3 separate regions of the Homo sapiens genome follow, and regions 1 and 3 are each reported to be linked to region 2. Evidence: microRNA targets listed by miRTarBase, many of them from high-throughput screens and not tested one by one. Region 2 holds a microRNA gene; each other region holds the end of a gene's coding sequence.

What was found. Region 2 holds the annotated microRNA hsa-miR-6787-3p (UCUCAGCUGCUGCCCUCUCCAG, at 1,472-1,493, shown strand). A microRNA usually pairs through its seed, bases 2 to 8, with sites in the 3' UTR of a target mRNA and lowers its output. Matches are read on the target gene's strand: a 7mer-m8 pairs with bases 2 to 8, a 7mer-A1 pairs with bases 2 to 7 and ends in A, and an 8mer does both.
Region 1: miRTarBase lists POLD4 as a target of hsa-miR-6787-3p. Seed matches in the 3' UTR shown: 7mer-m8 at 1,314-1,320 and 8mer at 1,852-1,859.
Region 3: miRTarBase lists RAPGEF1 as a target of hsa-miR-6787-3p. Seed matches in the 3' UTR shown: 8mer at 1,842-1,849 and 7mer-m8 at 1,746-1,752.

The regions. Positions count from the first base shown.
Region 1 is chr11:67,349,369-67,352,702 of GRCh38, reverse strand. It overlaps POLD4 (DNA polymerase delta 4, accessory subunit), which reads left to right. Exons shown (of 4, transcript NM_021173.5): 3 at 1-12; 4 at 684-1,931. The coding sequence ends at 708. All of the region lies in intron 2 of LOC100130987 (a long non-coding RNA gene), which reads right to left. Among named protein-coding and RNA genes, the nearest start is that of POLD4, 2.5 kb to the left of the region's middle. RefSeq lists an enhancer at 1-477.
Region 2 is chr17:82,235,236-82,238,569 of GRCh38, forward strand. It overlaps MIR6787 (microRNA 6787), which reads left to right and starts at 1,433; the gene lies at 1,433-1,493. It overlaps SLC16A3 (solute carrier family 16 member 3), which reads left to right. Exons shown (of 5, transcript NM_004207.4): 2 at 748-996; 3 at 1,494-1,637; 4 at 1,903-2,658. The coding sequence starts at 774. RefSeq lists enhancers at 1,010-1,199, 2,024-2,795.
Region 3 is chr9:131,576,896-131,579,895 of GRCh38, forward strand. It overlaps RAPGEF1 (Rap guanine nucleotide exchange factor 1), which reads right to left. Exons shown (of 27, transcript NM_001377935.1): 27 at 1-2,752. The coding sequence ends at 2,602. Among named protein-coding and RNA genes, the nearest start is that of PRRT1B, 33 kb to the left of the region's middle. RefSeq lists enhancers at 2,044-2,093, 2,124-2,253, 2,454-2,533.

The sequences.
Region 1 (3,334 bases), not on the chromosome of region 2:
CTTCCAGTGCAGGTCAGAGACAGGCCGGGAGGGCTTTCAGGGGAGCCAGGGCCTTCTCCAGGCACTGTCACCCTGCTGTCCTGACCTGAGGGAGAAATGGATGGAGGGTTGGAAGGCCTTGCTGAACAGGCAAGAAGATTCTATGAGGTGCCTGGCTCAGGAGGACACGCCACTATAATAATTCTTTTTTTTTGAGACAGAGTCTTGCTCTGTTGCCCAGGCTGGAGTGCAGTGGCGCGATCTCGGCTCACTGCAAACTCCGCCTCTCGGGTTCACGCCATTCTCCTGTCTCAGCCTCCCAAGTAGCTGGGACTACAGGCGCCCGCCAACACGCCCGGCTAATTTTTTCTATTTTTAGTAGAGACAGGGTTTCACCGTGTTAGCCAGGATGGTCTTGATCTCCTGACCTCGTGATCCCACCCACCTCAGCCTCCCAAAGTGCTGGGATTACAGGCGTGAGCCACCACACCCGGCCAATAATTCTTACCTCTACAAGCTAGTGGGGGGCAAAGGTACACCCAGGACCCAAGGAACTATCTATTTAGAACTGAGGGGTTTCCCAAGGACTATGGGCATGGCCAAGAATAAGCTGGTGAAATCAGATCCAGGGACTCAACAACTGATTCTCTGTTTCTCTCTCTCTCTCTCTGGGGTATCCCTCCCTCCCACCCCATCTTCCACAGTCTCTGGCATCTCTATCCCCTATGAGGCACCACGTAAGACCTCCTGCCCTTAGCTCTCTTGCTCACCACCCAAGAACCTCAGGACAGAAGCGAGAGCCCATTGCTCCTGCTCAGCTCAGCCCGGCTGCGGAGGAACCCTTGGCAGGCAGAACCTGGAGGTGTCAGAGGCTCAACTCCTCCATCTAACCAGCAGGCTCCCAGAGTCCCCGGAAGAGCCTGCGCAGCTGAAGCAGAGTGCTTCTAGATGGAGAGTGGTCACTGGGGAAAAGGACCTGGCCATCACCTTCCAATACCTGCTGCCTGTCTCCCTGACCCATGATCTGGCAAGTTAGGCACAGTCAGACATGGACAGTTGATCCATGAGGAAAAGATGCTCTCCCACCTAAGGCCAGGAATCTGAGAGCAGGACTGGCTGAGCTCCCAGGGCAAGGGGTTCACTAATGCTTATCAATAAAGAATATTGAGCCTGGAATCCTGACCTTCAGTCCTTTACTGTGGCCCTGCTTTGACTGGCAGTCCCTAGCAAGTTAGGAGATGAGAGAGGCACCACTACAGCTCTTTTCCTTCAAGAAAGTCCTAGGCCGAAGAGGGAGGAGACAGTCATCTTGAGACGGATCAAGTCCTCGGAAGAGCTGAGCGACCTCTGGTGCCCCCTGGTGGCCCACAGGGAAACTACTCATGACTCACCTTCTGGAGCAGCCAGGGAAAACCTACCTGACTAGCCAGCCACCTGCCTTGCTAAGCGGTGCCCACCTCACAAACATGGGTGCTTTGCCAGAGAAGGACCCCTGGGGTCCATAGCTCATGAAGTCCAAACATATCTATACATTCCCAGCAAGCACCTCTGGCTTCCCACATCGGGGGCCACCTTGATCCAAAGCAGGGCTGGCGAGGGTCTCAACTTGCAGGACCTGCTCAGACATGACCATCATCTGAGGGGCTTTGGTAAGAAACTGATGGCTGGGCGCGGTGGCTCACACCTGTAATCCCAGCACTTTGGGAGGCCAAGGAGGGCGGATCACGAGGTCAAGAGATCGAGACCATCCTGGCTAACATGGTGAAACCCCATCTCTACTAAAAATACAAAAAATTAGCCAGGTGTAGTCCCAGCTACTCAGGAGGCTGAGGCAGGAGAATGGCGTGAACCCGGGAGGCAGAGCTGGCAGTGAGCTGAGACCGCATCACTGCACTCCAGCCTGGGTGACAGAGAGAGACCCCGTCTCAAAAAATAAAAAAATACAAAATAAAGGCTGGGCGCAGTGGCTCACGCCCGTAATCCCAGCACTTTGGGAGGCCGAGGGAGGTGGATCAGGAGGTCAGGAGATCGAGACCATCCTGGCTAACATAGTGAAACCCCGTCTCTACTAAAAATACAAAAAAACTTAGCCAGGCCTGGTGGCGGGCACCTGTAGTCCCAGCTACTTGGGAGGCTGAGGCAGGAGAATGGCGTGAACCCGGGAGGCGGAGCTTGCAGTGAGCCGAGATCGCGCCACTGCACTCCAGCCTGGGCGACTGAGCAAGACTCCATCTCAAAAAAAAAAAAAAAAAAAAGAAAGAAAAAAGAAACTGATGGTGCTGGGGGATGGAGGAGAACTGGCTGGAGCCAGAAACAATGCCCAGGGGACCCAGGGTCAGGGTATGACATGGAGAATAGAGTCAGTAACCGCTTCTATAGTGTTACCTTCATCTACTGTGGCAGCCCTCTATCCTGGGGGTAGATGGAGGCAGCACTAGTAAGTTCTTGGAAACAGGCCTAGAGGGCAGCTAAGTGGCCTGTGTAGCCCCCGTCTGAGCACTGATCATGTCTCAGGTACTTTAAATGTATTACCTCGAATCCTCCTAAAAAACCTTCCAGGTAGGTTTTACTGAGGGGGAACTGAAACTAAGAAAGGTTAAGTAAAGTTGCCCAAAAGCACACAGCAGGCAAGAGGCAGTGCAGTGACCAGGGGCCACTTGCATTAACCTCTTCCAGACTATGCCATACCTCCTGCCCAGCTGCTAAGCACTCACTATGTGCCAGGCACCAAAGGTCCCCTTGGGGTATTACTAATGGTCAGGAGATGGGCAAAAACAAACACGTAAGTTAATTATGACAGGTAGCAGTCAGTAGTAAGCAAAATCAGAGTTGGGATCAGAAAGGGTCCAAGGATGCCAGGGGCGCTATGTTAGAGAGACTGGTCAGGGAAGGCCCTCTGCTAAGGTGGCATTTGAGCAGAGACTTGAAGGAAGGAAGGGAGCAAGGTCTGCATCTGAGGGTTCCAGGCAGAAGGAGCAACAAGGAGAAGCTTCCTGAGGAAGGAGTGTTTCCAGCCTGCTCCAGGAAAGGCACTGAGGAGGCCAGTGAGGCTGGGGGCCAGGGAGTGAGGAAGGGTAGTGGGAATTGAGGGCAGACAGGCAGCGGGCTGGTCCCTAGGGCCATGATAAGAAACTGGATTTGATTCTGAGTGAGAGGGGAGGATACTGGAGGGCTTGAAGCCAATAAATGACAGAGTCAAGCTTATGTTTCGAAAACATTACTCTGTTGGTGGAAAACAAGATTGTGGAGCTGGGGAAAACAGAGGTAGCAAAACCACTCAGGAGGCTACTGAAGTTGGCCTCATGAGAGCTGAGGGTGATCTGGACCAGCGTGGGGAGGTGGACTGCTCAGAAGT
Region 2 (3,334 bases):
CAAGATCTCACTGGAGGAGTCACTGAGCAAGAGGGCCGGTGGGAGGCAAGGGGGCATCCAGGGACAAGGGGCCAGCTCTGCCCCCACTTCCCCACCCCACCCACTCTAATACTGCAGCCCCTGTGCTTCCAACTGCCCCCTCCAGCCTGGGGCCCAGCCCCTCACCGCCAGAGACTGCCCGCCTCCTCTTGGGCAAGCTCCTGGTGGGCTCCACTGAAGCCAAAGTGGGCCCTTGGGGGCAGGAGAGCCAGAGCAAGGCACGCTCCACCTAGATTTAGACCGGGAGAGACCTGGAGGATGCCAACCCCAGAGGTCCTGGGGCGAGCTCAGTGCTGGGGACCGGAGGTGCCGTCTGCTGCCAGAATCATGGTGTGCGTGGTCCCTGCCCAGCACGGGTCAGCCAGAGCGAGCCAGGGCAGAAATGACGGCCAGGTCGATGTTCCTGTCGGGGGCTGCTTGTCCCAGGAGGTAATCTGAGTCCTGGCCGAGCCCAAAAAAGCCACTGCCCTTTAGAGCCAGCTGTGAGGGTGCAGGAGGCAGTGCAGAGGGAGTGGGACCCACAGCTGCTAGCCTCCCTCCAAACCCTCCTGCCTCCACCAGACACCAGGTCAGGGGGCCACAAGTGTGGGTGCCGGGCAGCTGCCCCTCAGCTGAGCTGCCGGGCCACCCAGCTCGTGTCCCTCCCCTGCCAGGCTGCAGCTGGGATGGTCACCCGGGCAGCCTGAGTCAGCCTGCTTTCTCTCTCAGGTGAGGCGGAACCAACCCTCCTGGCCATGGGAGGGGCCGTGGTGGACGAGGGCCCCACAGGCGTCAAGGCCCCTGACGGCGGCTGGGGCTGGGCCGTGCTCTTCGGCTGTTTCGTCATCACTGGCTTCTCCTACGCCTTCCCCAAGGCCGTCAGTGTCTTCTTCAAGGAGCTCATACAGGAGTTTGGGATCGGCTACAGCGACACAGCCTGGATCTCCTCCATCCTGCTGGCCATGCTCTACGGGACAGGTGAGGGTGGCCTCACACCGGGCCCCCTGTCCGGGGCTCTGCTGGCGGATCCTGCTGGGCGCGTGTAGCTGGGCTCAGCAACAGGGCCTTCCGCCTGCTCCCCAGGGAACCCTGGAGGGAAGCCCTTGGGGCCAGGATCCTGCTGGGCAGCAACATGCTCTCCACGGGGCCAACCCAGGCAGGGCGCGAAGTCCATCCTGGCCCCTGTCCAAACGGGTCGGCTGTATTTATAGACCGTCTCAGAGGACAGGCTCCTGAGAGCCGTTCCTGAAAAGGTGGCTGTTCCTGAGCTGCAGGGACCCAAGGGGCCCAGCAGGCGGCGCTCACGTGTCATCATGGCCTGCGCTCGGGGAGCCTGCCCACGGGGTGCCCCTGGTGCCCCGCGGGGGGAGGGGTGGTGTGGGAAGGGGAGGCCGGCTCCAGGCTGTGAGCTCAGTCGGCTGGCGGGGGTAGAGCTGGCTGCAGGCCCGGCCCCTCTCAGCTGCTGCCCTCTCCAGGTCCGCTCTGCAGTGTGTGCGTGAACCGCTTTGGCTGCCGGCCCGTCATGCTTGTGGGGGGTCTCTTTGCGTCGCTGGGCATGGTGGCTGCGTCCTTTTGCCGGAGCATCATCCAGGTCTACCTCACCACTGGGGTCATCACGGGTGAGTGGGGCCGGCCGGTGGGCCGCACGTGCCAGGAGGGGCAGGGGCCGTGCACTTCTGCTCCTGGGTCCAGGCCTCTGGAGGACAGCAGGGCGGGTGGCTGCGGGGTGTCCCGGCCCCACCTCGTTGTCCCCCTCTCGAGTGGGTGGGTGGCAGGGGCTCTGCACCCTGGGAGCCTGAGCCTGTGGGAACCTGGGGGCAGAGATGAGGGTCTCGGGCTTTGGGGCAGCCTTGGGGGGCTCTCACCACATTCCCTTTCCTCCAGGGTTGGGTTTGGCACTCAACTTCCAGCCCTCGCTCATCATGCTGAACCGCTACTTCAGCAAGCGGCGCCCCATGGCCAACGGGCTGGCGGCAGCAGGTAGCCCTGTCTTCCTGTGTGCCCTGAGCCCGCTGGGGCAGCTGCTGCAGGACCGCTACGGCTGGCGGGGCGGCTTCCTCATCCTGGGCGGCCTGCTGCTCAACTGCTGCGTGTGTGCCGCACTCATGAGGCCCCTGGTGGTCACGGCCCAGCCGGGCTCGGGGCCGCCGCGACCCTCCCGGCGCCTGCTAGACCTGAGCGTCTTCCGGGACCGCGGCTTTGTGCTTTACGCCGTGGCCGCCTCGGTCATGGTGCTGGGGCTCTTCGTCCCGCCCGTGTTCGTGGTGAGCTACGCCAAGGACCTGGGCGTGCCCGACACCAAGGCCGCCTTCCTGCTCACCATCCTGGGCTTCATTGACATCTTCGCGCGGCCGGCCGCGGGCTTCGTGGCGGGGCTTGGGAAGGTGCGGCCCTACTCCGTCTACCTCTTCAGCTTCTCCATGTTCTTCAACGGCCTCGCGGACCTGGCGGGTTCTACGGCGGGCGACTACGGCGGCCTCGTGGTCTTCTGCATCTTCTTTGGCATCTCCTACGGCATGGTGGGGGCCCTGCAGTTCGAGGTGCTCATGGCCATCGTGGGCACCCACAAGTTCTCCAGTGCCATTGGCCTGGTGCTGCTGATGGAGGCGGTGGCCGTGCTCGTCGGGCCCCCTTCGGGAGGTGAGCGCTGCGCCCCCAGGCAGTTCCCCACACCTGCCCTTCCCGTCAGACGCCCGCTTTGCGAGGGGGGGGACGCGCACCCCTCGGCAGCCACCCGCAGTGTGGGACTCAGAGCTGGAGGGGGTGCACTGTGCTGGACCAACCCTGATTCTGCTGGGGCTAGCGGGTCTCCATTAGGAGTGGGGTGCTCCGTCCGGCACAGTGTGTCCAGACAGGCAGGGTGGCTAGGGGCTGGGCCCGGGGGGGGGCAGCTCCTCCAGGCTCTGCCTGGGCACCACGCGGCAGCTCCAGGCAACCCAACAGCCGGCTTTTGCATTTTGGGGCCTCTCCTTTTTGAAGGATGACTGAGCTAACACGTGAGGGAAATTAAGTTCTGACTGGAGCAGCCTTGCCCAGGCTCCGCCTGCCTGGCGAGGGGGTCCTGGGCTTGGGGAGGGCTCATGTCTTGGAGTCCGCGGTGGCCAGGGCACAGGGCTGGTACTGAACACAGTAGGGCTTCTGGGGCTGCCGACTGGAAGCCTCAGGGGGACTCCGTGGGGACCAGCGTGACTCCTGCCACCAACCGAAACCCAAACTCCACAAAGCCATTGCTATTTTTAGCCTCTTAAGTCTTGGTTCCCCTGAGGAGGAGGGAGGATGCCCCCAGCTGAAACACATGGAGGGGAGAGAACACCTC
Region 3 (3,000 bases), not on the chromosome of region 2:
TGGAGGTCGTGGGGCCGGAGCGGGAAGATGCTCCCCAGAATCGGGTTCAGGTCAGACATGGTGTGTGCCTGCCCCTCCTTGCCCCCCCACACCCCGACACCTGCAGGTGAGGACTGACCTCTGCAAGGAACGAGTCCTCCGCCTGGCTCACGTCTGTCTGTGAAGACTGATTCCCACAACCCGCCCGGGCCCCCCAAAGGAACAGACGAGCCACGGCCAGGCCGCAGCACTGAGCACAGAGCTCAGCAATAACCAGGGCCAGGCTTAGGGGGCACAGGGGGCTGCCTGCCATCAATAAGTTAGACATACATCGCACCTTGCCGTCCTCACGCAGGGAGCCCCTGGGCACTGCTCATGTGCTGCCTGGGCCCTGCTGCTCAGAACACCAAGGGCTCCCAGTGAGGGCCTGGGGAATTGCCTGGGCACACTGGGGCCAGGCACAGGGTCTGTTCTGAATTCAGGGAAGGTGAAGAGACCCCACCTCTATCCAGCTCAAGCCCAAGAACAAGGCAGACAGAGCTGTGGACAGCACCCGACCACAGACACGGTTCTGCCTGCTGCTGGAGTGAGAGGCCTGGTTTCTGAGGCTGCAGCATGGCACTGGCATTGCCTGTGCTACAGATGGGGACTCCTGCGAGTCTCACAAATACAGGGAGAATTTCAGTTCACACAACCCAAGGGCCCTGTGTGCAGAGCGGCCCTCACACGCGCACAGCAGCATTCAACAGAGCTGGGCAAGGGAAGGGGAGAGAGAGTCAAGGATTGAAATGAAGGGACTTCAAAAAGAAGGAACAAACTAAAAACCCAACCCACACACAATACTGTTAATAAGCCAGCGACTCTACACACACACTCCTTAAATAATAAAGTGACAGGTCCCGGCTGGCCCCGCAAGACCACCGCAAGAGGGGGTCCCGCCACCAGAGGGGGTCCCGCCTGCCACTGCACGGCTTTCCTCCCTCTATCTACAGGACAAACAAAACACGGGAGAGGGGAAAAAGCCCACATTTTCTTCTTGATAAATGCTGTTCAAAAACCCATGAAGGACTCAAAGTGACATGGTGGTTTAAAAAAAAACCTAAATGATCAACAGATGTTGCTTTCTATATTTTTCCTTTGTTCTGTTTGAACTGGGCTAAGTAAGCACAGTTAGACCCTGCTGTTCACTTGACCACGTCCTAAACCCGGGACAAGTGAGCACTCATTCATGCACAGCAGACCCGGAGGCATGGGCTGGGGCAGCACAACTGGGTTCCCGCAGCGCCCTGCCTGCAGGCTCATGCTGGAGGCCACGGAACCAGGCGGCACAGGGCAGATTCTGTTTGTCAAGCGCCCCACAAGCCTTGCCCAGATTGTCAAGCTCAGCAGCGAGAATGGTTTTGACGAGGAGGATGGAAACAGCATCTGCTCTGGAAGCCGCTCTGGCGTGGGGAGAGTGGGGAGAGGGTGCGCTTGCTGCAGCTGCTGCCTTAGGAGGCTCCTCTGTGGCCAGGCTTCTGCCTCCCTGCACCCTGAGGGACCATTCGGGTGCCTCAGGGATGCCCTTCCCTCCCAGGGGCACTGACAGCACTGGCTGAAAGGTCTGAAGAGCCAGAGGAGGAGCCCTGCTGGCTGGCCCAGGATGGGGCAAGGAGGGAGGGAAAGCCAGGGGATGGGGAGGGACATGAGATGGAGTTTAAGGCACACAGCGAGCGATGGAGGAGGGAGGTGCTGGCCTCTCCCCTCTGAATTAACTCCCCCAGGAGCTCAGCTCTGGCCTCAGTTTGGTGAGGTTCAGAAGACTCCCAGCAATAAAAAGTATTTCTTGGATGATCAAGTCCTCCCTTACTCCAGCCTCCTCTTCTCAGCTCCCCAGGTGGTGTGGGAGGGGCCCAGTGGCCTGGGGTGGGGGGTAAGGGGCGACGGGATGACAGAGACTGCTGCTGCTCTCAGGCGGGCAAGGGAGGCCCTGATGGCGCCAGTACCGCGGGGCAGAGCACCAGCTGCGGGGCTGCTAAGGCGTCACCTGCGTACCTTTCCGGGCCTGCTGAAAAGCTCACACCATCCTCCATGCATCAGAAGGGGAAGCGGAAAGTGAAAGGATCCTCCCCCGAGTCTACTCTGCATTCTGCCCACCCAGCTGCTTGCCCCCATTCCAGGGCCCCTGCAGGACAGGCCACCCCAGGAGGCCTCCACTCATTTGAGATTTCAGAAGATTCAGGGACCCTGGAGCTTAGGGAGGGGGAGCACCCACCACTTCCTTGGTCTGCTGATGAGGTCTCTGCTGCTCTCTCCCTGGAGGGGAGTGGGTGGAAGGTCAAGAGGGGAGAGATGGAAGTAAAAGCAGAAAACAAAACCAAACCAGAAAACCACCGGTTTGTAAATTGGCAACAAGACCTGCCTGCTGGCTGCCCTGAGGCCCACGGGTCTGCTCCCACAGAGGAAGGAGGCAGGAAGCGGCTGGCAGGCTCCAGCTCCCGCCCGGCCCCGCTGAGGGCTGGCCAGCCTCATGGCTCCGAGGCCGGGACTCCTGCCATGCGCCTAACAGGTCCAAGGTCCTCTCCGGTCTGGGAGCTGCCCTCTGCGCCCCTCGAGCATTCTCCTGGATCCCGGCGTCTGCTCCTAGGTCTTCTCTTCCCGGTCTGTTTTTCTCCTTGTTATGTTCCTGGGTTTAATTTTCAGAGACAGTTCCCATAGGGCCTCCTCAGCCAGGTGGTCACTGAAGTCATTGAAGAAGTTTATAATGTCGTCGTTCCTCCGCATGTCATAGTGCCTGGTGCAGGGGATGGGGAGCAGTCAGTGAGCACCTGTGTGGGCTGGATGGCCCGATGGCGCCACCCTCCTGGAAGGTGCCGCGGGGACCATCCCCACAGCCTCGCAGCAAACGGATGCTGCAGGGGCTACCGTTGACCAATGTGACAGAGGGGACACCAGTGCTCAGAGACGGTGCCACCAGCACATGGAGCACAAACAGGGCCCTGAGGCTGGGCTGCTCACAGGGAGGGGGCCCCAGGTGATCCC